Homo sapiens: one gene and its partners. The protein of the gene in region 2 interacts with the protein of the main gene of each other region in a pairwise test. Each region holds a gene or a part of one and is shown on either strand. Other genes may lie near its edges. The genes, in order: SAR1A, TTPA, CMTM4 and SLC35E3.

Region 1 (7,027 bases), on a different chromosome or scaffold from region 2:
TAACTAGGCTTGCCCTAAGCCAGTATATTTTCTTCTATACCTTTTGCTCAAATTTGTTAGTCTCCTCCTCCCTACATAATACATATTAATGCTTATTTTTTATGAACTGTTTGTGAGCATATCATGCCCCTTTACTCTTTAATACTTTAGTGCCTCTTCTTTATATAATACATATTAATGCTTGTTTTTAATGAAGTGTTGGTGAGCATATCATGCCCCTTTACTCTTTAATACTTTAGTGCCATTTTCTAAGAACAAAGATATTTCCTTGTATATAATCATAATAGTTATCAAATCCAGGAAGTTTTATTTTTATCCACTCTGTATTTCCTTTTTTTTTTGGTCAGTTGTCCTGATAATCTCTTTTATACCATTTTTTTCATCTTGACCAGGTATACGGTATCATATATCTAGTTATGAAGTCATTTTTGCATCCTTTATTCAATGGAGTGAAAGTATGTAGGAAATTAAATATTTATAAGTAATTTCAGACTTGTCAAAAGTTGCAAAAGTAATACAGTGACTATGTGTGATTACTCTGATACAAGTTGATATTTTGTATATTCTATCCATTTCAGACAGTTGGTGGAACATTTCCTTCTACCTTTTTGCTTTCCTCAGAAGTGCTTTTTGCCTACTCAGGCTATGTCTTTGGTTTCCAGATTCCTATCAGGTGTTTAGAGACATACAGAGTGTCATCTTTGTCTGATGGGCACTCAGTTCACATTTGACAAGACCGTAGGTATAGGAGTAAAACATTTAAGATGTGAGAATAAATATTCTGGGAAAGTAGGGAAAAGGAACTATTGAGATTCTGTCAGATTTACTTACTTGTTATTACACTGAGTGGAGAAGTCTTGTTTTGAAACATTAGGTTGAGCTAATACCGTTTTTTTCTTTTTTTTGAGATGGGGTCTTGCTCTGTTGCCCAGGCTGGAGTGCAGTGGCACAATTTTGGCATACTGCAACCTCTACTTCCTGGGCTCAAGCAATCCTCCCACCTGTTTTTTGTAGAGACTGGGTTTCCGCCATGTTGCCCAGGCTGGTCTTCAACTCCTGAGCTCAGGTGATCCACCTGCCTCAGCCTCCCAAAGTGCTGGGATTATGGGCGTGAGCCACTGTGCCCAGCCTAATACAGTTTTTAAAAAATGTATAGTAAAATATAACATTGGTCATTTCTAGTTGTTAAGCCTAATAATTTTATAGTCAGTGATTTCATTAACATATAATTACATTTTAATTAATTTATTTAATATTTATGCCCTGAAAAATCATGTATATTATGATCATAATCACATAAAATACCAGTAAAGAAAAGAGGCTGGAAGAAAATATCAAAATATTGACAAGGGGTGTGTTTTGATAGAGGGATTAGAAATGATTTTGTTTCCTTTTTTTCTGTAAGGAGCTTGTATTTTTTTCATTTGGGTAAGAATGGGTATATGGTGTCCTTTCTGCTGCTTCCACAAAAGGATTTGTAACTGCTTACAAATTTAAATTCAGAGCAAGATAAGACTGAACCTAGACCATCTGGAGAATGTAGAAGGACCAGACGCCAGATGGTTTTATATACCTGAACTGGGAATTGTAGATTGTTTGGTGTGATAAATTTAGGTTTCAGGTTTTGTTAAAAGTAAGAAGGGAAATGTATTGATGTAATTAGTTTTGTTTATTTGACTGAGGAAAATCTACTTAACAAAAACACTTTTACATAATAACCTAGCCACCATTTTATAAAAGTTACTAAAGTACTGTACATCTGGAGGTTTCCTTTTTTTTTTTTTGTATAACTTAAAAATTTTAACTTATAAAAGGAGAGCAAGTTCGATGTAACAAAATCAGTATAGAACTACGGAAAGTAAAATGGAAAGTTCCTTCAACCTCTTTTTCCTAGCTCCACTCTTTAAAGGTAACCATTATTAACTGATGTAGAGATGGTTCGTTATTCATTCTATTGCAAGGGCTAGAAATTAATGGCTTAGAAATGATAGTACAATTAAATCACTGCTTCCCAGCCTTTATCGTTTCATGTCACAAGCAAAAAACCAAGTAATATTTATAAGGCATGCTGGGTTAAATATGGTAGGTTGAGATAACTGGCCTGGGGCCTTGAACCACTTGTCAGGCCTAGTCTCCCTAAGGGCTGAGCAGAGGAATGTGTCAAGACGCCTACACACAAGTTGGCTAGAAACTAACTGGGACTAAAGTTACATGGACAAGTAATTTGTATCCTGATGTTTTAACTCAGAGGTTGCAAACTAGACTTGGCCCCAGGGGCAAGGCAAGTCATTTAAGTGAGTAAAATTGGCTGACTGTAAGACAGCAGGGAAATTTTGTCAAGCAAAAGTGTTCAGACATCATCTGAAGGGGCAGCCACTGCTTAGTTCCTGCTGATAATTGTCACGTGGATAAGTAGGCATGGGATTGCCAGATGTTGCAGTTTTTCAAAAAAAGCGGAAACTCTGATTTTCAAATTTACAAAAATCAGGTTCAGCTCATGGACCATCAGTTTGCATCCTCTGTTCTGAATTAATACTGGCCAGAACTTGGAGAAATCCATAGAGTCTAATCTTACTGAAACCCGACCAAGATTTGTCCATTTTATAGACCATTAGGTTATTCATTTTCACAATGTATATTTTTTACTCATGCAACTACAAACTTTGTTTTTTAGCACGTCGCGTTTGGAAAAATTATCTCCCAGCAATTAATGGGATTGTCTTTCTGGTGGACTGTGCAGATCATTCTCGCCTCGTGGAATCCAAAGTTGAGCTTAATGTATGTTTTGTCCTTTAATGTGTATTTTAATGTATATTTTGTTCTTTTTTGGCCTCTATTTTTTTTTAAGGAATATAGCTCAGTAGTGCCAATAATTAGTCATTCCAGTTAACATTTGGCAAAAAGACCTAGTTGCAGGAGGAAAATGTTTTAAATCTAAGACATTGCTTTTCAATGTCCTGAGGAAACTCAGCTCAAACTTAAATAAATTAACTGTTGTTTCTATCATACAGTGATTATATGGCCAAGTTTGCTCAGGATACTCCTCATTTATGCCTGTTGTCCCAGCATAATTAATAGTATTCTGTTTCACGTGTCATGAACAGTAATTCTGTTTTTTTTTTTTTTTTTTTTTTTTTTTTGACGGAGTCTTGCTCTGTTGCCCAGGTTGGAGTGCAGTGGCGCAATCTTGGCTTACTGCAACCTCCACCTCCTGGGTTCGAGGGATTCTTCTGCTTCAGCCTCCCGAGTAGCTGGGACTACAGGCACGTGCCACCACGCCCGGCTAGTTTTTTGTATTTTTAGTAGCGACGGAGTTTCACCATGTTAGTCAGGTTGGTCTTGATCTCCTGACCTCATGATCCACCCGCCTTGGCCTCCCAAAGTGCTGGGATTACAGGCATGAGCCACCGCGCCTGGCCCATGAACAGTAATTCTTTATAAGTAGTGTTGGCATAGTGAAAGCCTAAAAGCGATATTAGAGTTCTTTACATTTTTGAATCTGCATTCTCAGCTTGTGCCTACCCACCCTCCCACTGAATGACTTGCCAGACCTTCATGGTCTGTTCTCAGTCTTCAGTTTTGGTTGCATACATCCTTTGATACTATTAAGGACTCACTTCAAGTTTTCTCCTTTGTCAACATTGCATTTTCTCATGGCTTGATGGTTTCTATACTATTGGCTTTGTTATCCCTACTCCTTTACCCTATATCTCTTCTTTCTCTTTGATTTATAACTCCTTGCATTCTTGTTTCTGGCAACTTGAACCTGTCTTGAATTTATTTCTAAGTATGTTTCTCACATCTATAGCTCCAGCCTCATGTAGAATTGCCTGCCACGCAGTCTTTACCTTGCTTTTTTTTTTTTTTTTTAAACAGAATCTTCCTCTGTGGCCCAGGCTGGAGTCCAATGGTGCAATCACGGCTCACTGTAACCTCCAGACTTCTGGGCTCAAGCGATATTCCTGCCTCAGCCTCCCAAGTAGCTAGGACTACAGGCATACACCACCACACCCAGCTAATTTTTTTTAAAAAAGTGTTTTTGTAGAGACAGGGTCTCATTATGTTGCCCAGGCTTGTCTCAGTCTCCTGGCTTCAGGTGATCCTCTGCCTCGGCCTCATGAGGTGCTGGGATTACAGGCATGAGCCACCATGCATGGTCTCCATTCTCTTTGTTTAAACTCCTCTTTTCACTCTTGATTTTGGAGCTACCTCTCTGGCTGATACTTCTGTCTCTTTGAGAAGCACTAGTTCTTCTGGTTAGTCCTTAAATGTTGGTGTTCTCCAGAGTACTTTCTCCTAGGCTGGTCCCATCTACTCCCTTCATTTGGCACCTACATGTCAGTGACTCTCAAATGCATTTCTCTCCTCTAGACCTCTCCTGAGCTCTAATCTCATACCTAATCCTGCCTACTCTCGACAACTCCTACTACTGATTCTGTTTTCCTAGAATGGAACTATTTGTCTTTCCCACCCACCACCTACCTGGACATGCAGTCCACAAATCTGTGAATTAATATAAATCCTACCATGACCCTGATATGCACCATAATGCTAGAAGGAACTTTCTCAGACTTAATTGCCCTACTTAATATCCTTTGATAGTTCTCTATCATTTTCAGGATAAAATCTATAAATCTTTTGCATAGCACATAGGATCATTCATGATCCTCCCTCTGTTTCTTTTTACTGCCTACCTTGAACTATATTCCAAACAAACAACTTAGCCATCCTTGAATATGCACAAGTAGCTACTGCCTGGCTTTTTCACCTGTACCTCTCCTCAACCCCTCGCTTTGTCGGCAAATTTTAAAATGTTCTATAAGAGACCTCAGAGTTCAGATATGACTGCTTCTGGTAAGCCTCCCTTGACCTCTGAGACTGTGTTAGACTCCCACCTTACCAATGTCTGTTGTCTTTATTGATTTTTTTATAGTTCTCTCTCATCAGACTATGAACTAACATGATAGGGACTGTGTCTTATTTCTTTGCAAAACCCCTGCACCTAGCAAAGCATTAGACACATTAGGTACTTTGTTGTTGCTTAATGAATGAAGGACATTCTTATTCTAATTTTGTGTAACATTTCCTGGAATTCCAGATGGTCAAAGTACATTCCTCTTTATCTCTTTAACTCTGCTTTCCCCGCTAGCTTTCCTATTGGTGACAACTAGATTCCCAGGCTTGAAATCAGTGGCAGTTTTGACTCATTTGTCTTTTTTAAATTTTTTTTTTAATCATTTAGACATTGGTCTCTTCAATTCTTTCTTCAAAATGCCTCCTGCAGTATTCATTGAATGCTCTACCTTAAGCTAGATCATGATCTCTTACATGAACACCACAGATAGATACTATTTGTGAATTCATTATACTGAAAAATAAGATTTTATTCACTAACTTCTGGATTTGTGGTCTTTTAGGATATATTGCAGCTCACTTCTCACACTGGCCCCTAATGTGAGTCATCTCTTCTCATCCATTTACTTTGTCGCTGCATGTCTATCTAAATGCTTGAATCCAGCCATGCAGTACTGTGTGGCTTCCTGAATTATTGTCCTAATGCAAAGCCGTTGTTTATGTTCTTACTTCTCCTTTACACCTATCCAAACCCTGCCCTTCCTTTAGAGCCCTGTTTAGGTTCCAGATCTTTTCTAAGACTTTGCTCAAGCCCAAAATTGCCATTTTATTTCCCTGAACTTGTCTTAATGTTAATATTCAGTTCCCATTCATTGTGACACTTATCCACTATATTGTGTTCTTACTTGGCTTTGTTAACATAAATGTGGCTGGGCGTGGTGGCTCATGCCTGTAATTCCAGCATTTTGGGATGCTGAGGTTGGCAGATTACTTGAGGGGCAGGAGTTTGAGACCAGCCTGGCCAACATGGTAAAACTCCATCTCTACTAAAAAAATACAAAAATTAGCCAGGCGTGGTAGCACATGCCTGTAGTCCCAGCTACTCAGGAGGCTGAGGTGGGAGAATCGCTTGAACCTGGAAGTCACAGGTTGCAGTGAGCTGAGATTAAGAAAAAAGAAAAAAAACATAATGTGAACATAGAGTGAGGATTTTTTTGAGGACAGGAATGTGCTTCCTTTTGTATCCTCAGTGCCTGAGATAGTTACCCTTCCTACTTTATTCCTCTCAATGCCTGAGAGAGTTCTTCGCACACAATGGGACTTGGTGAATACTTGGGGAATTCCTGTAGTCATCTTTGAGGCTCTGTAGCCAGAGCATTCATTCTTATAGGACTTTGCTGAGGGACATCCTGAGGATAGTTTGTGGCTGAGCAGATTAGCTCAAAAGTTAATATTGGGGCAGTTCTGCTGCCTTGTAAATAAATAGAATAAAGTTGCAACTGTTTCGAGGCACTTAGGAGATTTTTACTTAATGTCATGGGTGTTATGTAATGTCAAGGTGAATCTTTAATCACTCAGGTATAAAGTTGATCAGATTTTCACTTTACATTAATGCCTTAAAAGATTAGTGGAAGTCAGAATTTTCATTATCTGGTGGGCTTTTGTAGATTCCTCACTTAATTCTTTTTTTTCTTTTTTTCTTTTTTTTCAATCTTTAGGCTTTAATGACTGATGAAACAATATCCAATGTGCCAATCCTTATCTTGGGTAACAAAATTGACAGAACAGATGCAATCAGTGAAGAAAAACTCCGTGAGATATTTGGGCTTTATGGACAGACCACAGGAAAGGTAAGAGAAAAATATTTGGGTTACATATAAAGGACATTAACAGTTTTTAAAACATGATGTTTCGCTATCTAGATTACCCTTTTCTTTTAAAGGCTTAAACAGGCTTAGGATTAGTTTTACTGTGAGTATTTTGTAAGCTCACTAGAGGCAGGAGTGTGTTCTTTTTAACGTTTTAAATGGGATTCATTCATCAGGTATTTGAGGAAGAAGGAAATGGTAGAAAAGGCAGATTTACTCTTCTAAGAGTTTATGATTATCTTTCAAATTTGATTCTGAGAAATTGCTTTTGAAATAGCCCTTTTTAGCCAGAAAATAATTTTTTT
Region 2 (7,323 bases):
TAGTGGGAGTGTAAATTAGTTCAACCACTGTGGAAGACAGTGTGGTGATTCCTCAAGGATCTAGAACTAGAAATACCATTTGACCCAGCAATCCCATTACTGGGTATATACCCAAAGGATTATAAATCATGCTGCTATAAAGACACATGCACACGTATGTTTACTGCGGCACTATTCACAATAGCAAAGACTTGGAACCAACCCAAATGTCCATCAATGATAGACTGGATTAAGAAAATGTGGCACATATACACCATGTAATACTATGCAGCCATAAAGAAGGATGAGTTCATGTCCTTTGCAGGGACGTGGACGAAGCTGGAAACCATCATTCTCAGCAACTATCACAAAGACAGAAAACCAAACACTGCATGTTCTCACTCAGAGGTGGGAATTGAACAATGAGAACACTTGGACACACAGTGGGGAACATCGCACACTGGGGCCTGTTGGAGGGTGGTGAGCTGGGGGAGGGATAGCATTAGGAGAAATACCTAATGTAAATGACGAGTTGATGGGTGCAGCAAACCAACATGGCACATGTATATCTATGTATCAAACCTGCACATTGTGCACATGTACCCTAAAACTTAAAGTATAATAAAAAAAAAAAAGAACAAAAGCAAAAACAGGCCATTTTCAGTTAACTGGAAAGAAATTTTGAAATTTTACATGTATATAAAAGATTATTAATCACACTTAAATAAATGCATATTATAATAACAATGAAAAAGTATATCTCTTTTAGCAGGTTTATACACAAATTGTGTTTGATAATACAGTGTGGGTTATGGAGGAAAAGGCAAAATCATGTAATATCAGAGTGATGAGTTATAGAGTTTTTTTTCTTTTTTTTCTTTTTTTTTTTTGAGACAGGGCCTCACTCTGTTGTCCAGGCTGTGGTGCAGTAGCACAATCTCGGCTCTCTGCAACCTCCACCTCCTGGGCTCAAGCGATTCTCCCACTTCAGCCTCCCAAGTAGCTGGGATTACATGCACGTGCCACCACACCTGGCTAATTTTTGTTATTTTTTGTAGAGATGAGGTTTCACCATGTTGCACAGGCTGTTCGTGAGCTCCTGAGCTCAATTGATCCACCATCCTCAGCCTCCCAAAGTGCTGGGATTGCAGGCCTGAGCTACTGCGACCTTTGGAAGGCACTGAAAACTCTTTGGAAGACAGTTTGTTATATTACTCAACACTGAAAAATACACATCTAATTTCATCCAGCAATTTCACCGGTTGAATTTATCCTGTAAATTTATATTCCTATTTATGCACAAAGTATGAGGACATGAGGAATGCCCAGTCAGTGATGGAAGAAACCACAGCCGCCTTGTTGACTGCATCTTGTGTACTACTAGGCAAATTGTAGAGTCCAAAAAATAATTGTTGAATGAAGGAATGAACAGCAATAAGCCCTAAGTCCAATAACAGGTTAGATACATTTTAATATAGTCTAATATATCCATCCAGTAGAATAACAGCAGCCCAATAAAGAGTAAGATGGATGTATACCAGTTGATATGGGATGCTCCTAGTTCAAAGACAGGTAAGAAAGGCAAAATAGAAATCACACACAAACATGCTTGTGCAACCTCTGGCTGTTTAAAAAGATAAATGAGTAACACTAACCAGCCTCTGGGTATGTGACTGACAAACTAAGGTTTGAGGTAGGGAGCTTTTTTCCTTTAGAAAGTTACTGTTAGAAACTTACTTTTCACGTTTTAGGATTTTGTGTTACCTAGATTATTTTTACCATAATTTTACTTAAGTTAAAAACAACCTCAGGCTGCTCTGTCTCTATGGAGTAGCCATTCTTTTGTTTCTTTACATTCTTAATAAAGTTGCTTTCACTCTAAAACAAACAAGAGAAACCCTCAAAAACCTCATACTGAGACACACTGGAATTTTGTACTATAATATCTTTCCTGCTAGGCAGCTGTGTGACACTGAACAAGCCACTTAGAGAAAGGGCTAGATCTGGTCGAACTGCTGAATGCTTACTGTGTGCCAGGCACTGTGCTGGGCACAGCTTGTTTTGTTAAACTGGTTAATGTTCAATCTTCACAAAAAATCAATGAGACAGGCATTTCCATCATTATTTAACAGATAAGGACACCAAACCTAAAGTGACAGAACTCAAGGTCGCATCCCTCTTTCTGATTCCTATCTTTCCATCACCTTTTCTTTCAGTGAGCTGTAACATACCAGAAACCAAAAGAACTGCCCGACTACAACCCAGACTCGAACTATACTGGGTTGCTTTACTGTCTTGACACTTAAGTGTTACTAGTAATAATACTATGTTGCTACTATATGGCTTCAGAACTTCAGTTTTACCAGCAATTTCATTTTCCCCGCTATACGTAGTTAATCTGGTCACGTGTGATAAGTCTGAGCTTCCAACTTGTAAGCTGTTACTTTGTTTGTACCACAGGCTTTCCTGCAGGGAGAGGAAGGCATGTCCCCCAAACTTTGTAGGTTCAGGAGACTCATCTAGCGCAGGAGTTCTCCATGCTTGAGATCAAATGGGCCATTATCCCATGACTCCAACACTTTCTAGCTTTGTCGTTTCCATGACCCAGAGAAACTGGAGGACCAGCTCTGGATTCTCGGAACATCTACAGCCTCAGCGCCCACGCCGGGTGGTTAGGGGCGCGTTACCCGCCAGGGTCCTGCCTGCACCCTGGGCTTCGGCAGGGGTCAGATATCCGGGGTCGTGGGGCGGGGGACGGGGCGGGTGAGGTGCGCACTGCCGAGCGCCCTGGGCACGCACGCTTACCCGCCAGGCCAGGTCCAGATCGAAATCCCGGGCGCGCAGGAACCGCAGCAGGAAGGAGTCGGTGAGCGGCAGCGGCGCGAGCGGGACGCCAGCTTCCCGGGCCCGGCGCCGCAGCGCCGCCAGGCCCGGCTGCAGCAACGGAGAGTGGTCCGGTAGCGCGTTGAGCTGCGGCCCCGCCGAGGGCTGGGATCGCGCCTCTGCCATGCCCGCCGCCGCTGCTGCGGCCGCAGCTACCCGGGCACCCGGGAAAAGCGCGCGCCCCGCGCCACCCTCGGCCCCGCCTCTGCGGCCGCTGCCCGTCGCACAACCACTCTCCAGCCTGGCAGGGCGGTCTCCGGCCTCGCACGCCGGACCCGCGGCGAGCAGAGCTGCCTCTTAAAGGAAACCGCACAGTGTCCCCACGGGTGCTAGCCACCTGTTTAGCAGCTTTAGTTAGGGACCCCAGCTTTTTCCCAGCGAGGGAAGCCACTGATGTTCAAACACCGAGGAAACGATGTCAAAGTTAGTTGGGATGATTTTTACGATCTACTAGAGAATCTTTTTTTTTTTCTTTTTCCTTCCTCCCTCTCTCTTCCTTCCATTCTTCCTTCCTTCTTGCAATCTTGGAGCTGAAAGGAGCCTTAGAACGAGCCTTTAATGGCCAGTGGCCGACGCGCTACTGAGCCCTCTCCCTTCTCCTTCCATCAGATTCCAGACTGATGACCCCTCGCCTCGCACTGGATTACAGCATGCATTCTAAAACACGCATTCCATAATGCCTCCTTGGCAGCCTCACCGCTTTTCTCCCTTCCTCCCGATTCGGGAAAACTTCTCTAATCCTGGCACCGGCCCCTGTTACTGACACAAATAAATGACTAGCGCGTACCCTGACCCCCTTCCGCACCAATATTTATATATTTATATTTTTTATTAATTTATTATTTACTTATTTAGAGACAGGGTCTCACTGTCGCCCAGGCTGGAGTGCAGCAGTCTGATCAAGGCTCACAGCAGCCTCCAACTCCTGGGCTCAAGTGATCCTCCCGCCTGGGCCTCCCAAAGTTTTGGGATTACAGGCCTGAGCCACCATGACTGGCCTCCATATATTTTTAGCACCATAAACTTACTCTGTTACACTCCACCATCACTAAACTTTAAGCATGTCTACTCGCTAAAATGGACAGTCCAAAGCTGTTATATGATTGAGTCTATGAAAGCCTGGGGAATGAAGATGAAGTAGGGAAATAATGTGGAAACTTGAAAGGCTGTTCCGTTGTCCTTTTCTTGATTTCTCCATATTGGAACTAGCCTAGAATTGTTTTGTCTTCCCAAGAGAGAATCCATGAAACCGTTTCTTATTAAATGCATACTATGCTCCAGGTAAATGCTGGACTTGGAGAAAAACAAATTAAACCAAATCTTTGCTTTTAAGGAGCTCAGAGGGTGGAGAAAGAGACTGCCATTTCATTCATTAAAGAAAGAGTGATTGGGTGGTTACTGTGTCCAGACCCTATTCTAGGTACTGAGGGCACTCCTGTGAACAAAATAGACACAACTCTTGCTTTCAAGGAGTTTTCATTCTTTTGGGGGAGGGAATGGATGATTAACAAGATAAATCAGTAAATAATGTGATATAAGAAATGGCAGTCAATGCTATGGGGAAACGAAGCCAAAAAGTGGGCAGCACCTACAGTGACGTTGGAATAAACACCTGAGTGAGGTGAGCGAGCTTGGCCCAGGGGTATCTGGGACTGGAAGGCTGTGGGCTTTGGCTTCTGTTCTGAGGGAGATGGGAAGCATTAGAGTAAATAATCCCAATCCAACCAGAAAGCAACTATACCTGGGGACAAAAGATTCCTAGCTTTGGCTTATACTCAGAGTGAGACGGAAGCTATTTGAGTAAAGGTTTACAAGTCAATGTGACAAGTGTACAAAACAGGTTTGGAGACCATGGTGTGAGAACACAGAGGAACACTACCGACACTGCCTAAGAGATTTGGAAAGGCCTCACAAAGGGGCTGTTTGCACGGCCTTAGTGAATGCACTGGGAATGTTTGCCAACCAAAGGAGAGAGGGGGAAGGAAGAAAGTACTAGTCAAGAGGGGCTGACTGTGCAAGGCCTTTCTGGAAGCTCCGAAGAATTAAAAGACAATGGTAGCCTTTCTTCTCTAGAAGTTTTAAGTGTCTAAAAATAATAAGAGAGGGCCTATAGAGCATGTTTTCCTCCCTTCCAAAAGATTTTTTTCAATGCTCTCTCCTACTTGTTTTTAGTAATTAGCATCCACTTTTTTGAAATTGGGCAGAAAGTTCAGTGAGAGATCGGGGACATTATCTAGCTATAGCCATTGAAGGTGCAAAGAGAATGTCTCTTCCCCTCTGTAAGTTCCATGATTTTAGTCTATAAAACAAACTGACAGTAGACAGACGAATGGGAAAAAGGCACATGCGTATATTAACGTGTGTAAACAAGGGAGTCATACACAAAGTATGAGACTTAAAGAAGGGGCCAGATAATGAAGTTTTATACCATCCTGAGGTTACAGAAAGAATAGGGGCTTGGGGCTTCTCGAGGAGAGATGGAGACACGGGTTATGGGAAAGTGAGGGGGAAAGCATGGCATAGAGCCTACCTAGTTTTGCAGATAAAATCCTCCAGGGAGGAGCTCTCAGAAAGAATAAGACAGGAGCCTGTAGTAACAGTTTCCCTAGTGGACCTTTAAGGTGTCCAACTTTTAGTCCCTTTTTCCCAAAAGTTAATCTTTCCTAGATCCAGAGAAGGGGAGCCTCAGAGAAAGCTTGGATGTTTATTTCACCTATATGGATTTTCTCTACAGATACAAATCTCCCCTATAAAAGACAGCTTTTCAGGGCTATTCTTGTGCTGGCAGTCCCTCTGAATAGCCATCTCAAAATAGACCAAAGGAGTATATTGTGAATGGCATATTTTTGGTTTCCTTCATTGTAGTATCCCTTTTTTTTTTTTGAGACGGAGTCTTGCTCTATTGCCAGGCTGGAGTGAAGTGATGCAATCTCAGTTCACTGCAACCTCCGCCTCCAGGGTTCAATAGATTCTCCTACTTCAGCCTCCTGAGTAGCTGGGACCACAGTCGCACACTGCCATGCCTAGCTAATTTTTGTATTTTTAGTAGAGATGGGGTTTTACCATGTTGGCCAGGATGGTCTCTATCTCTTGACTTCGTGATCAGCCCGCCTCAGCCTCCCAAAGTGCTGGGATTTCAGGTGTCAGCCACTGTGCCTGGCCTAGTGTCCCTTTTTAGAACTGATAAATCTGTTATTTCTGCATCTGTGAAACTCTTCTAAGAAATCAATAAGATTGACTGATTGATTGCCATTAAACTCAGTGAAAATGAAGCCAACATGGAGCCCAGATGGTGGTGAGAGGTGGCTCCTAAATACCTAAGAGGTGGCAGAGGGAGCGGTGGATATCTATAACTCAAGTGGGAAGCAATGCCAATGTCAGCAGTTAGCCCAGTGGTAGAAAAGATTGCACGACTATGGGAAAGAGAGAAAAAAGTTGAAGAATTGATGGGGCAGACATAAAAGGTGAGAATTTTACACTACAACTTGATTACTTTGGGGTTAAATTATACAGATCGTGCTTCTGTCTTTCAACAATGTTATCTTGGATTTATATAAAAATTTTAGAATTCTTGGCACAAGCTTTCAAGAGCTGTTACTCAATTTTTGTTTTGAAATGTTTTCAAATTTTCTATGCTCATATTTTACTCTGGTGAGCTCTTGTGTTTACCGAAAATGCATCCAGGCCTCTGGCTGAAAGAGTCCAAAGGGATTTCTGGAACTAATGGTATGAGGAAATAAAAGCAAAACTGGAATGAAAAGTTAGTTGACTTTTGTAGCTACCTTACAATTTACTCTGAAATTATTTAACATTTAGTTATTTATTAGCATAATAATTCATAAGTATACCAATTTATTTTACTTTCAGCTTCACAGAAAAGACAAATATTTTTCACTGTTAAAAGATAACATTTTCAAAAAGAGATAAAATTATGACACTTATACATATATAAAACTGAACAAGTGTTAAAGATTTTATTCAACTGGTAAGGAGGAAAGTAGACACATGTTATTGCAAGTTCAAATAAGTTAAAAAAAAAAGCACACATTTACATGGAGTAAAGGATGTTGAAAGGGATGTGCAAATGGAGGCAAAACTAACTTCTTTCACAGTGAGGGAGAGAGGTCAATCAAAACTCCTCCAGGCAGTTCAGAATTAGCATGTTATTAGACAAGAATTATTTGCCATTGCTATCAGTTATCTACAGTTCACAGAATTGTAAAATAGCTTCGATAGAATGAGAATCAAATAATGCAGGAGGTGCCATCTAGAGTCTATGTAATGCATAATTTTCCATTGAAGCAGAAATATTACCCCACATCACTTGGGAAACTCTATGTAAAATTTATAAAATAATATTTACCACAGAACATTTCAACCATATGTAAAAATAATAGTAATGAATACCAATATACAGTCTGCTTCAGCAATCAATGATATTTTGCCAATCTTGTTTTATCC
Region 3 (7,027 bases), on a different chromosome or scaffold from region 2:
TGGGAGGAAATGTCAACCAAGTCTGTATTTTTTTTTTAAATGTTCAGAAATGTGGTGGTCTTGTCCTTTGATGTAGTAAAAGCACTCCTTGAAATTTAACCAAAAATAATAATTCAAAAGAAGAATCCAGGCTACACTCATGAGGACATTTATTGACGCATCTTCCTAATAGCAAAAAAACTAGAAAACATAATCACCAGACTTTGCCACAGGGGATCATATGTAGCCTTTGGAAAGGAAAAAATTTCCAAGTCCTTTTCATTTGAGTCTGTCATAATACGATGATTATTTTTCTAATTTCTAATTTTCTTTAATGTTACAACATTTTCACTAACAAATGAGGGTAAATTCCTTTCAAATGGAAGAAGTTTTCCATTAGCATCAACAAATTTATTAAGCACCCACTATTGTGCAGAATGCTTTTTTTTTTTTTTTTTTTACAGAAAAGTGCATTTTAAAACAATTTAAGCTTCAAGTTTGTCCAAGTGGTCTGTATTATCTAAATCATTCTTCCCAAGGGCCTCCAAATTACAAAGAAAGTCATGAAAAGTTAAAGATTACAGTCAGTATATGAGCTTTAAGGCTATACTAAGGTAAAGCTAGTAACATCTACTATTTTAGTAATTTTTGAATAGAAGGTACTTGCATGTGGTACAAAATTCAAGGGCTGGGAGCAGTGGCTCATGCCTGTAAACCTTGGACTTTGGGAGCTGAAGGCAAGAGGATCGCTTGAGCCCAGGAGTTTGTGGCCAGCCTAGGCAACATAGCGAGACCGTCTCAAAAATAAAATAAAATAAAATAAAATACAAAAGGTACAAACAGTTATACAGCAGAAAATGTCTCCCTGACACCCTGGCCCTCGGCCACCCAGCTCCCCAACTTGTATCATTCCAGAGATATTCTGTATCACTATCAGTCTGTTGTCTGTTCTGGTTGCTATAACCAAATACCGTAAAAAGGGTAATTTTTTTTTTTTTTTTTTTTTTTGAGACGGAGTCTCGCTCTGTCGCCCAGGCTGGAGTGCAGTGGCGCAATCTTGGCTCACTGCAAGCTCCGCCTCCTGGGTTCACGCTATTCTCCTGCCTCAGCCTCCTGAGTAGCTGGGACTACAGGCGCCTGCCACCACACCCGGCTAATTTTTTATATTTTTCATTGAGACCGGGTTTCACCGTGTTAGCCAGGATGGTCTTGATCTCCTGACCTTGTGATCTGCCCGCCTCGGCCTCCCAGAGTGCTGGGATTACAGGTGTAAGCCACCGCGCCTGGCCAAAATGGGTAATTTATAAATAGAAATTTATTGCTCATAGTTCTGGAGGCTGGAAACTCCAAGATCCAGGTGCCAGCAGATTCAGTATCTGAGTGAGGGCCCATTCTTCACAGACGGCACTTTCTATGTGTCCTCACATGGCAGAATGAGCAAGGACACTCCCTTCAAACTCTTTTAAAAGGGCACTAATCCCATTCATGAGGGCTGAGCCCTCATGACTTAATTACTTCCCAAAAGGCTCCACCTCTTAATACTATCACACTGGGTGTTAGGTTCCAACATCTGAATTTTGGGGGAATGCCAACATTCAGACCATAGCAACCTCCAACAGGCTTTGATGACGTGGTGTCTTGAGACGCTGAGCTAGGGAGCATGGTGGGCTCACCAGCACTGTAATACTACCATTATCCCCAACTTACAATCCCCAAGTGAGAGACCTGCAGGAGATCTGCTTGTGGCCTGAGTGAACAAGTAGCTTGCCAAAAGTCTCATGGCCGATAAGAGATACGAAGTCCATCATACTCTCAGAAACACTCCCCTCAACACACACACACACACACACACACATTCTACCCTAAACAAGGGTGACTTCATGTCATTGTTCTCTCTCCCTGGAACATACCTCCATAAACCATCACTAGCCCTTTGCCTGGCTAATATAAAGTTTAGAATCAGCATTCTTCTATCTACAAAAAAACCTTGCTAGGATTTTGGGATCGTATTAAACCTATAGATCATTTGTGGAGAACTAATATTTTAACTATATTGAGTTTTCCAATCCTAATGAACACAGAATGCCTGTCTACTTATTTTGGTCATCTTTGATTTCTTACTTCAGTGTTTTGTAGTTTTCAGTGAGCAGATTCTATACATGTTTTGTGAGATTTATATCTAAGAATTTCATTCTTTTGAGTGCTGTTATAACTGATATTGGTTTTTTTGTTTTAATTTCCAATGATTTATTGCTAGGATATAAAAATACTATTGGTTATCGTGTGTTGACCTTATATCCTGTAACCTTGCTAACTCACTTATTAGTTCTAGGAGGTTTTTTATAGATTCCCATGTGATTATCTACCTAATCATGCCATATGCGAATAGGGACAGTTTTATTTATTTCTGATCTGTACGTCTCCTATTAATTTTTTTGCAACGGCTAGGACTTCCAGTATGATCTTGAATATGAGTGGTAACAGTAAACATCATTGCCTGTTTCCCATCATGGGGGAAAGCATTCATTCTTTCCCCACTGTAACATTATATATTACAGTATAATGTTAGCTGTAGATTTTTTGTAGATGCCCTTTTTCAGGTTGAAGAAGTTCCTTTCTCTTCCAAGTTTGCTGACAGCATTTATTATGGAAAAGTACTGAATTTTGTCAAAAGTTTTTTTTTTCTGCATCAAATGATAGAATCATGTGGCTTTGGGTTTTGTTTTGTTTTTGAGAAACGGTCTCACTCTGTTGCCCAGGCTGGAGTGTAGTGGCACGATCGCGGCTCACCGCAGCCTTGACCTCCTGGGCTCAAGCAATTCTCCCACCTTAGCCTACAGCTGGGACTACAGGCATGCACAACCATGTCATGCTAATTTTTGTATTTTTTGTAGAGAAGGGGATTCACCATGTTGCCCAGGCTGGTCTTGAACTCCTGGGCTCAAGCAATCCACCTGCCTCGGCCTCCCAAAGTGCTGGGACTACAGACATAAGCCACTGTGCCTGGCCTGTTATTTTAAGTTATTAATATGGTGTACACCTATAACATTTACTTTCAAAAACTGCACCAACCTTTTTGTTCCTGGGATAAATCAAATTGGTTTGGTGTATTATTCTTTCTCCATTATGCTGGGTTTTATTTTCTATATGGTATTTTGTTGAGGATTTCTGTGTCTGTGTTCATATAAGGAATATTGGTCTGTAGTATCATTTTCTTGAACTGTCTTTGTGTGGTTTTGTAAAACACATGTACGCTCTACATTTAACAACTTCTTTTGAGATCGTGGATTATAATTTCACTATTTTTAATCATCAAAAAAACTTAAGAGTAATTATAACTTTGCTTTTCTGCCAGAATTTATTTGACTCCAAGTCCTTGATCAGGAAGACAACTCCTAAAGATAACAATCTTCCTAAAGGAAAATGGGACTGTTTTACAAGGAGCCACAGAATGGTGGATCTGAGAATCCAACATAGAGAAACCCACTGCTTCATCTACCATTATGCGCTTGTATATGCATGACTTCAGGGATAAATGGGAGCCAGAAGTACAAAGGAATCTTCAGTAGTAAACAAAACGCAGAACCCTTCACGGTTTGACCAGGGTCATTGTGTGTCTGCCTGGTCATTTGACCAGCTCTTACGAATCAGGAACCCAGCTGAACCTCAGTTGAACCAGCCCCTCCAACAGAACTGAGGGGATTTGGGGCTGATAAGCTCAGTGCTATGTCTACAGCCAGTCATTTCTCAAAGTTGCAGCTTTGTAAATGTAGCTATATTTGTGTTGCATATGATTTCTATAATGTATTACTGCCCCACCCCTGCACATCCTCCAGAGAACAGTAACCAGCCAGGGATTGTGCTGACTGGCTTGAGATTTAAAAAACTAACAAGGTTTCCACCAAATAAAAGAGATGCCATTACCCACCCCTGAAGTGCAAATACTCACATTTGTTTTTGAGTTACGTAAGAAAGCAACTATCAAACATTAACCTCTTAATTCTTACAATTCCTAAAATGGTCAATTAGTCATTACTACCCATACTGTACAACTGAGGAACCCAGATTCGATGAGATTAAGAGACATCAAAATCAGCTGAGCTAAAATTTGCATTTAAACATTTCCAGGCCAGGCGCAGTGGCTCACACCTGTAATCCCAGCACTTTGGGAGACCAAAACAGCAGGATTGCTTGAGCTCAGGAGTTCGAGATTAGCCTCTAGTTTGAGGCAACATAGCAAGACCTCGTCTCTACAAAAATAAAAAAAAAAATAGCAGGGCATAGTGGCACATGCCTGTAGTCCTGGCTATTCAGGAGGCTGAGGCAGGAGGCTCCCTTGAGCCCAGAAGTTCGAGGTTACAGTGAGCTATGATCATGCCACTGCATTCCAGCCTGCAGTGACAGAACAAAAATCTGTCTTAAAAAAAAAATTCCTATTACCCATCTTTTGTTATTAAAAAGTCCTATACAAATACATTGTCAGAAAGTCATCTAGGCATGGGAAGGGCTCAAGAAAGGGATGTGGATCAGGTGCGGTGGCTCACGCCTGTAATCCCAGTTTGCGACCAACCTGGGCAACACAGTCTCATTAGACTGTCTTTATTCATTTAAAAAAAAAATTCACACAAGGAGGAAGAAGATAATTTAAATCAGTTGTTTAACCACACTAGACATTCTCCCCAACTAAGAGATACGTACAGGTTTCATTTTGAAAAGATATAGGCGGAGGTAAGTGACTCATGCCTGTAATCTCAGCACTTTGGGAAGCCGAAGAGGAAGGATTGCTTGAGCTCACGAGTTTGAAACCAACCTGGGCAACACAGGGAGACCCTATCTCTACAAAAAATTTAAAAATTAGCTAGGCATAGTGGCATACACCTGTAGTCCCAGCTAGTTGGAGGGCTGAGGTGGAAGGATCACCTGAGCCCAGGAGGTCGAGGCTGCAGTAACCTATGATTGTACCACTGCACTCCAGCCTGGGCACAGAGCAGGACCTTGTCTCAAAAAGAAAAAGAAAAGATAAAATCTATGCAACTGCACCGTTTAATTTTTTCATAATGTTTCAGATTAGCTTTAGTATCCAATCACATTCCATTAAAAATACCAATTTAACTTAAATCATAAGGAATTAAACTATCTTTAATTCAAACACATAATTATGTTTTTGGTGATATTTTCACACAGTTTCTTTAGAGACAGGCATTGTTAGCACTATGACAGCTAACATTTATTGCACATCAGTTAGATACCTAATACGGTAGGTACTAACTTACACATATTATTTCATTTTCTTAATCCTTTGAGGGAGGTATTGGCAGTCTCATTTTACCGAAAAATCTCAGCTTTAAGGTTGACTATTTATCGAAAGCTGGTTGCTAGCACCTGTGTGAGGTTTTGTTGTTTTTTTTTTTGAGATGGAGTCTTGCTCTGTCACTCAGGCTGGAATGCAAGGGCACAATCTCAGCTCACTGCAACCTCTGCCTCCCAGGTTCAAGCGCTTCTCCTGCCTCAGCCTCTGGAGTATCTGGGATTACAGGCACTCGCTATATGCCTGGCTAATTTTTTGTATTTTTGTAGAGATGTGGTTTCACCATGGTGGCCAGGCTAGTCTTGAACTCCTGACCTCAAGTGATCCAGCCACCTCGGACTCCCAAAGTGCTGGCATTACAGGCGTGAGCCCGGCCTGTTGCAAGGTTAACACTGAAAGGATATAGAAAGGTAAGTCTCAAACTTTAATGTACACGTGGATCACCTGGGGAATCTTGTTTAAATGCAGATGACTCAGAAGTTCTGGGGTAAGGCCACTGATTCTGCATTTCTAACAAGCCCTTAGGTGATGGCAATGCTGCTGGCCTAAGGCCAAACTTGGAATAGCAAGGATCTACAGGTTGCAATAGGCCACAAAAAACACCACCAAAAAGTCTACAGCCCAACGCAGGGGCTCACGCCTGTAACCCCAACACTTTGGGAGACCAAGATGGGCAGATCACTTGAGGTCAGGAGTTCAAGACCAGCCTGGCCAACATGGGGAAACCCCATCTCTACTAAAAAATAGAAAACTTAGCCGGGCGTGCTAGTGGGCGCCTGTAATCCCAGCTACCTGGGAGGCTGAGGCAGGAGAATCACTTGAACCTGGGAGGTGGAGGCTGCAGTGAGCCAAGATCTTGCCACTGCACTGCAGCCTGGGTGACAGAGCAAGACTCCATCTCAAAAAAAAAAAAAAATCTAAAAAAACTAAATTTATGGCCAGTCGCAGTAGCTCACGCCTATAATCCCAGCACTTTGGGAGACTGAGGCGGGTGGATCACCTAACGTCAGAAGTTTGAGACCAGCCTAGCCAACATGACGAAACCCCGTCTCCACTAAAAATACAAAAATTAGCCAGGCATGGTGGCAGGCGCCAGTAATCCCAGCTACTCGGGAGGCTGAGGCTGGAGAATTGCTTGAACCCAGGAGGCGGAGATTGCAGTTAGCTGAGATGGTGCCATTGCACTCCATCCTGGGCATCAAGAACAAAAGTCTAACACAAAGAAAAAAAAAACATACACACCACTAAATTTATTTTTAGACATGGGATCTTGCTACGTTGCCCAAGCTGGAGCACAGTGGCTACTCCGAGGCACCATAATAGCTCCCTGTGACCTTGAACTCCTAGGCTCAAGCAGTCCCCCCACCTCAGCTTCCTGATTTTTAAAAGTCAAATTTTTCTCCAAACCGCAGAGTTAGAACTTACTCATATTTCTTGATGGATTCTGAGTTTTGTAACATCTCAGAAGTATCTTCATAATGACTTCTTATTTTCTTTTCAGTTTAAATTTAGAGTCCAATTTCTTGGAGTTTTGTGGGATTTTCATCAAGGCTGGGAAGCCAACTACACCAAAACCATTTGAAGTTGCCATACCCTTCAAGCAGGTCCCTTTCCTTTACTCACCCACATATAACCTCTCAGAGTTTAAGTTCTAGAGATTAACAAACAACAGAGTTAGGCGAGATTCTGGGGGCTAGGCCCAAAAGTTCTTCCGGATGAAAAGTACAAATCTAGGCCAGG
Region 4 (7,027 bases), on a different chromosome or scaffold from region 2:
TGTAAGGATTAAATAAGTTAATATACACAAAGCTTCTAGCATATAGTAAGCACCATATGTGCTAGCTATAATAACATTACCAACAGCAGTACTTATGTATCATAAACACCTGCTTGGTGCTTGACACATTCTCTCAAATACAACCACCCAACATCATAGATCGTACTTCCTCCACTTCATACATTTCATAAGTGATCAGAGTGAGACCCTGAGAGTTCCCACACTAGTCAGGCCCACAGAGAGTGGCAGAGCTCAGTGTTCACACCTGGACCTGTCTGACCTCCAAGCCCACCTAAGCAGCCTGGAGGTTCCCGCTGGGCAGCAGCAGTGCCTCAGGAGAGCACAGGCTGCGTCACCAGGGGCATATGGTGGCTTGATCCCATGAAGGTGACTTCCTGAGACACAGAGGATCTTCCCAAGGTTGTTGGCAATAGTCATAATGTTTTATTTTCAATTATGAGCTATCTTCATGTGCACTGGCTCTAACACTTTAAATTTCTTTACTCCTCAGCTTCTCTTTTAAGTATATTTATACGAGAAGGAAGTCAAATTTAAAGAAACTATTTATGAATCCTTTTGTAAAAGCAACAACAAAAGAGCAGTCTACATGTGGTATTTCCAGTTCTGCACTTTACTCCAGGCAGGCTGTCACCCCAACCCCAACCCACTTTACTCCAGGCAGAATGTTCTGGTCAAACCCAGTGCCCTCCACCTCACTCAGTCCCTCAATGGTGACCAGTCTCCTTGAACTTGGCCTGCCAGCGGCATCTGACACAGACACCGACCCCGCCTCCTCCTCCTTCCTCTGGTTCTGTGCCAGTCTCCTCCTTCCTTCCACCTCTGACTGCTCCTTCTCATCCTCCACCTAGTTTCTCATCTCTCTGAATTCCAAATACTGGACTCAAACCCAACACTCAGTCTTTGGACTTATTTTCTTCTACTTGTCTGCTTGGTAATCTCAACTAGTCTCATCACTTTAAACCACAGCTTCATACTGCTCACTCCCTGTGATGCCTCCTGCTGAGACGTCACCTTTGAACCCTGACTTGTTTATCCAAAACTGAGCACCTGGCTGGGCACGGTGGCTCACACCTGTAATCCCAGCACTTTGGAAGGCTGAGGTGGGAAGAATGCTTGAGCCCAACAGTTTGAGGTTGCAGTGAACCATGATCGCGCCACTTCACTCCAGCCTGGGTGACAGAGCAAGACCCTGTCTCAAAAACAACAACAACAAAATACTCCCCGAACTGAGCACCTTATCTTCCTCCCCAGCCCCAAACCTCCTTCTGGGTATCCTATCTTAGTTGATGGCAACTCCATTCTACCAGGTGCTCAGGTCAAAAACCATGTAAATCAGCCTTGTTTTCTCTTTCTCCACATCCAACTCGGCAGCAAAACCTGTTGGCTCTTCTTAGAAATATTTCCAGAATCCAATCACTTCTTACTATATCCACTGCTATCATACTGGTAGCCACTATTACTTCTAAATTAGAATATCGTAGCAGTCTCCTGAGTTTCCTGTGCCTCTTTCAGTCCAGTAGTTCTCAACCATGGGTGATTCTGCTTTGTGGGCAATCTTTGGAGGCATTTTTGGTTGTCACAACTGGGCAAAGGGTATGTATGCTACTGGCATCTGGTGGTAGAGCCCAGGCCTGCTGAAAACATCCTACAGTGTACTAAACAGGCCTGCACTAAGAACCGTCTAGCCCAAAAAGTCAACAGCCCAGAGGTTGAGAAATCCTTCTTAAGTCTATTCTCAACACAGGAGTCCTGAGTGATTCTATGATTTATTTTATTTTAAAAAACTTTTTGTAGAGACAGGGTCTTACTATGTTGCCCAGACTGGTCTCGAACTCCTGGGCTCAAGGGATCCTCCTGTCTTGGCCTTCCAAAGTGTTGGAATGACAGGTGTGCCATTGTGCCCGGCCCACTGAGTGCTTCTATTAGAATGTATGTAAAATCATGTTACTTCTCTGCTCAAAATGCTAATGGCTTCCCATCTTACTCAGTTTAATAGTCCTTACATAAACGCCCTACTCAATTCAGTTCTGTGTTACTTCTCAGCCTACCACATTCCCTCCTTTGCTCAACCTGCTCTAACCACACAGGCTTCCTTGGTTTTTTTACGGCCTCGCACCTGCTGTTGCCTCTGCCTGGAATGTTCTTTCCTCCTGATCTGCATGGAGCAACTGCATTTCCTTCAGGTCTTTACTCAAATGTCGTCTTCCCACTGATGCCTTCCTGACTAGCCCTGCCTAGAACTTCAATGCTGTCTATGACATTTCACATTCTCTTCCCCGCTTTATTTTTACTCCTTGGCAGTTAACACTATCCAACACTGTATATAAATATTTAATTGTTTTCTATTTCTAGTCTTCCTCACCAGAATTCAAGCCTGTGAGAGCAAAGACTTTTGTCTATGTGGTTCATTACTGTATCCCCTGTGCCTGGCACACAGTAGATGTTCAGTATATAAATATTTTTATATCAATGACTGGTTTAGTGGGTATTCAATAAATACTTATTGAATAAATTAATGTTTTAAATCAGAGCACATATTTGGATGCCTTGATTGGGTAGTATGATGTACAAATTTGGGGACTAGACTGCATGGGTTCAAATCTGGACATCCCATTTGTCAGCTGTGTGCCTTAAGTGAGTTGGTTAACCTCTCTGTGCCTCTATTTTTTCTATAAACAAAAATGACAGACTTTACCTCACAGAGCTGCTGTGAGAATTAAATGGACTAATACATACAAAATGTTTCTAACAGTGTCTGACACAAAATAAATATTTGTTAAGTATTGGTTTTCTAAAAAACTTATCGTTGTTGTTTTTTATTGATAGTTGGCAAATATCCTACTTGTTTACTTCCTGGGGAAATTCATTTGTTGCATTTGCCTAAGGGTGGGGGCAGAGTGAAATGTGAAGAGAAACAGGATGACAAGCAGAATGGTACAAATGGACAGTTGAATTTGACCTTTAACATATAACTTCATTTCTATTTTTTCTTTTTTTGGTAGAGATAGGTTCTCCCTATGTTGCCCAGGCTGGTCTCGAACTCTTGGGCTCAAGCGATCCTCCTGCCTCGGCCTCCCACAGTGTTGGAATTACAGGCGTGAGCCATGGCACCCGGCCAATGACTTCATTTCTTGACTTGAAATAATATTGAGAAAAACAGGCACACCCATATCCAAATAAGTACAAACACATACTCCATAGCCAGATGCCAGTGGCCTGAAATTATCTTTTGTTATTTGTTAACCATTCCTCTACTTTGTTACTAGAAATACCTGAAAATTGTTTGAAAATCCAAACCTCCACCTCACTATTCATTCAAAAAATATTTAATCTCACTGTCTGTAAGAAATGGTACTCTGAGTTAATTTTTGTAAGGGAAAAGGTCACCTATTACATAAGAAAATTCAGAAACATTCATGACACAAAAAGCTAACCCACTTCCTCAGTTCATATTTCTTTTTTTTTTTTTTTAAGACAGAGTCTTGCTCTGTTGCCCAGGCTGGAGTACAGTGGCACAATCTCAGCTCACTGTAACCTCCGACTCCCCAGTTCAAGCAATTCTTGTGCCTCAGCCTCCTGAGTAGCTGGGATTACAGGCGTGCACCACCTTACCCAGCTAATTTATATATTTTTTGTAGAGACGGGGTTTCACCATGTTATCCAGGCTGGTCTTGAACTCCTGGCCTTAAGCGATTCACCCGCCTCGGCCTCCTGAAGTGTTGGGATTACAGGTGTGAGCCACCACACTTGCCCCTTCAGTTCATATTTCTTTAAAATCCTTTAGTGGGTAAAGATACAGTAAAAGGCTAAAAATAACTCTCTCTACTCAATTTAGGCCATGCAATAGTTAGTGTGAGATTCAAATAAGGTAATGAATGTAAAAGTTTTGGAAAATATAAAAGACGATGCATTTCTAAGTTATATGAAAAGGATACGTGACAGGTGAAGTGTTCCCAATGATCCAATAAATTGATAAGTTCACCATGAAAGCTATTACTCCAGATAGCAGCACCATAAGCTACAAATAAACCAAAAGAACCATTAATGCAAAGCACTGCAATCATAATCATCAAGCAAAGATACATTTCATTCGGCATTTTAAAAAATTCAAATATCAACCATTAATAAATAAGATTAGAAAGAGAGGGCCGGGCGCGGTGGCTCACGCCTGTAATCCCAGCACTTTGGGAGGCCAAGGCGGGCGGATCACGAGGTCAGGAGATCGAGACCATGGTGAAACCCCATCTCTACTAAAAATATAAAAAATTTGCTGGGCGCAGTGGCGGGCGCCTGTAGTCCCAGCTACTTGGGAGGCTGAGGCAGGAGAATGGCATGAACCTGGAAGGTGGAGCTTGCAGTGAGCCGAGATCACGCCACTGCACTCCAGCCTGGGCGACAGAGTAAGACTCCATCTCAAAAAAAAAAAAAAAAAAAAAAAAAAAAAAGAAAGAGAATTTGGGGTTGGGAGACAGTAAGAATTGCAAGTAAAAAAGCAGAATGAACCGTGTTTAGAAAAAACGTAATTTTTTCCACAAGAATCAACGAAAAATACTGCAATAACATCCTTTCTGTGATTGTGAATTTCCAGGTTCATTTTTCTTATTAATCTAAAGAAAAAGTATACATATGCATTATTATTATTGTACATCAGACAATAAAGAAAAGCAAAAAGAATATAAGGAATTCTTATAATCCCAACCACCCACACATTAACATCTCGGCATACCTCCTTCGAGATCTTTTTCTTTTTTTTTTGAGACGGAGTTTCACTCTGTCACCCAGGCTGGAGTGCAGTGGCACGATCTGGGCTCACTGCAACCTCCACCCTCCAGATTCAAATGATTCTCCTTCCTCATTCTCCTGAGTAGCTGGGACTACAGGCGCCTGCCACTGCGCCCGGCTAATTTTTTGTATTTTTAGTAGAGATGGGTTTCACCATCTTGGCCAGGCTGGTCTTGAACTCCTGACCTCATGATCCACCCACCTCGGCCTCCCAAAGTGCTGGGATTACAGGCGTGAGCCACTGCACCCGGCCGAGATCTTTTTCTATTAAATTGCTCATTTTTATTCTTTTTTTTTTTTTGAGATGGAGTCTCATTCTGTCGCCTAGTCTAGAGTGCAGTGGTGCAATCTTGACTCACTGCAACTTCTGCCTCCCAGGTTCAAGTGATTCTTCTGCCTCAGCCTCCCCAGTAGCTGGGATTACAGGCCCATGCCACCACACCCACCTAATTTTTTTTGAATTTTTTGGTAGAGATGGGGTTTCACCATGTTGGCCAGGCTGGTCTCGAACTCCTGACCTCAGGTGATCTGCACCCCTTGGCCTCCCAAAGTGCTGGGATTACAGGCCTGAGCCACTGCACCTGGCCTCATTTTTATTCTTATTTAACTCAATAAGCATTCATTGGATATCTACAAAGTTAGGCCAGGCCTTCTGAGGAACGCAGTATGTACAAAGTTCCTGCCCTCAAAGAGCTTAGAAACTACTTGAGGACATAATAAAAATCATGATGATCACTGCTTACACTTACATAACACTTATTATGCACCAATAATTGTTCTGTTTTACATGTATTCACTTATTTAATTTTCACATACATCCACAAAGTAGTTGTAAAAATATTATTCCTTTTTATAGATAACTTGGCTGGGCACAGGGGGACAAATGGGTTGGACCACTATATACACATACAAAGTTCTGTTCAAATCTATCCCATAATTTTATCCAAAAAGTTATAGAATCATTTTGTTTCTGAATTTAGATAAAATGATATTCATGATATAAACTATTAAGAAGTTTAAGTTCCAAAGAAAACTTAAACTTGATACTTGGCACATCATTAAAAACACAATTACTCTACTTTGTTAGGGTCTTTGTTACGGACTTTGAAGAATATAAAGAAGCTAGTTCCACGTTGAAGAGGAGTGGTAAGAGTGGGCATCCTTGTCTTGTTCCAGTTCTCAGAGGGAATGCTTTCAACTTTTCCCCATTCAGTATTATGTTGGCTGAGGGTCTGTCATAGACGGCTTTTATTAAATTAAGGTATGTCCTTTGTATGCCGATTTTGCCAAGGGTTTTAATCATAAAGCGATGCTGAATTTTGTCAAATGCTCTTTCTGCATCTATTGAGATGATCATGCCATTATTTATTTATTTATTTATTTGGAGTCTCACTCTGTCGCCCAGGCTGGAGTGCAGTGGCACGATCTCGGCTCACTGCAAGCTCCGCCTCGCGGGTTCACGCCATTCTCCCGCCTCAGCGTCCCAAGTAGCTGAGACTACAGGCACCAGCCACCACGCCCAGCTAATTTTGTTTTTGTATTTTTAGTAGAGACGGGGTTTCACCGTGTTAGCCAGGATGGTCTCGGCTAGTCTCAATCTCCTGACTTCGTGATCCGCCCGCCCTGACCTCCCAAATTGCTGGGATTACAGGGGTGAGCCACTGCGCCTGGCCGATCATGTGATTTTTGTTTTTAATTCTGTTTACATAGTGTATCACATTTATTGACTTTTGTATGTTAAACCATCCCCACATCCCTGGTATGAAACCCACTTGATCATGGTGGATTATCTTTTTGATACGTCATTAGATTCAGTTAGCTAGTATTTTGTTAGGGATTTTAGCATCTATGTTCATCAAGGATATTGGTCTTTAGTTTTCTTTTTTGGTTGTGTCCTTTCCTGGTTTTGGTATTAGGGTAATGCTGGCTTCATATGGAAAAAAAAAAAAAAAGTTGAGTTGACACAATCCTCTACTTTGAGTCAAGGATGCCTCCTAGGGACATTAAGGAATGAAGATGACTTTCCTTCACACTAAATGGCCTCAGCCTGCTGTGGTCTTGGTTTCTTTGCCTTTTTTTTTTTTTTTTTTTAATGGCTTTTCTGCTGCTGTCCTCATTTTAAAACCTGTTAGAAGGCTACGAAAAAAATCCTCTCTCCTTGTAGTATAAGGTCTCTAGGCTGCAATGGTTTGAAACCAGATAACCAGGATGGCTAGGACTTTTG

What was found.
Region 1: the proteins of TTPA (region 2) and SAR1A interact in binary tests that used the Homo sapiens proteins (3 or more experiments, as listed by UniProt).
Region 3: the proteins of TTPA (region 2) and CMTM4 interact in binary tests that used the Homo sapiens proteins (3 or more experiments, as listed by UniProt).
Region 4: the proteins of TTPA (region 2) and SLC35E3 interact in binary tests that used the Homo sapiens proteins (3 or more experiments, as listed by UniProt).

What each region holds. Positions count from the first base shown.
Region 1 is NC_000010.11:70,153,515-70,160,541, reverse strand, and holds part of SAR1A (small COPII coat GTPase SAR1A), read left to right. Parts: intron 1-2,674; coding exon 2,675-2,778; intron 2,779-6,572; coding exon 6,573-6,704; intron 6,705-7,027. UniProt on the Homo sapiens protein: Small GTPase that cycles between an active GTP-bound and an inactive GDP-bound state and mainly functions in vesicle-mediated endoplasmic reticulum (ER) to Golgi transport.
Region 2 is NC_000008.11:63,083,034-63,090,356, forward strand, and holds the start of TTPA (alpha-tocopherol transfer protein), read right to left. Parts: upstream 3,021-7,323; 5' UTR 2,989-3,020; coding exon 2,785-2,988; intron 1-2,784.
Region 3 is NC_000016.10:66,686,719-66,693,745, forward strand, and holds part of CMTM4 (CKLF-like MARVEL transmembrane domain-containing protein 4), read right to left. Parts: intron 1-7,027. UniProt on the Homo sapiens protein: Acts as a backup for CMTM6 to regulate plasma membrane expression of PD-L1/CD274, an immune inhibitory ligand critical for immune tolerance to self and antitumor immunity. May protect PD-L1/CD274 from being polyubiquitinated and targeted for degradation.
Region 4 is NC_000012.12:68,756,169-68,763,195, reverse strand, and holds part of SLC35E3 (solute carrier family 35 member E3), read right to left. Parts: intron 4,040-7,027; coding exon 3,957-4,039; intron 3,157-3,956; coding exon of another isoform or gene 3,111-3,156; exon of another isoform or gene 2,805-3,110; intron 1-2,804. UniProt on the Homo sapiens protein: Putative transporter.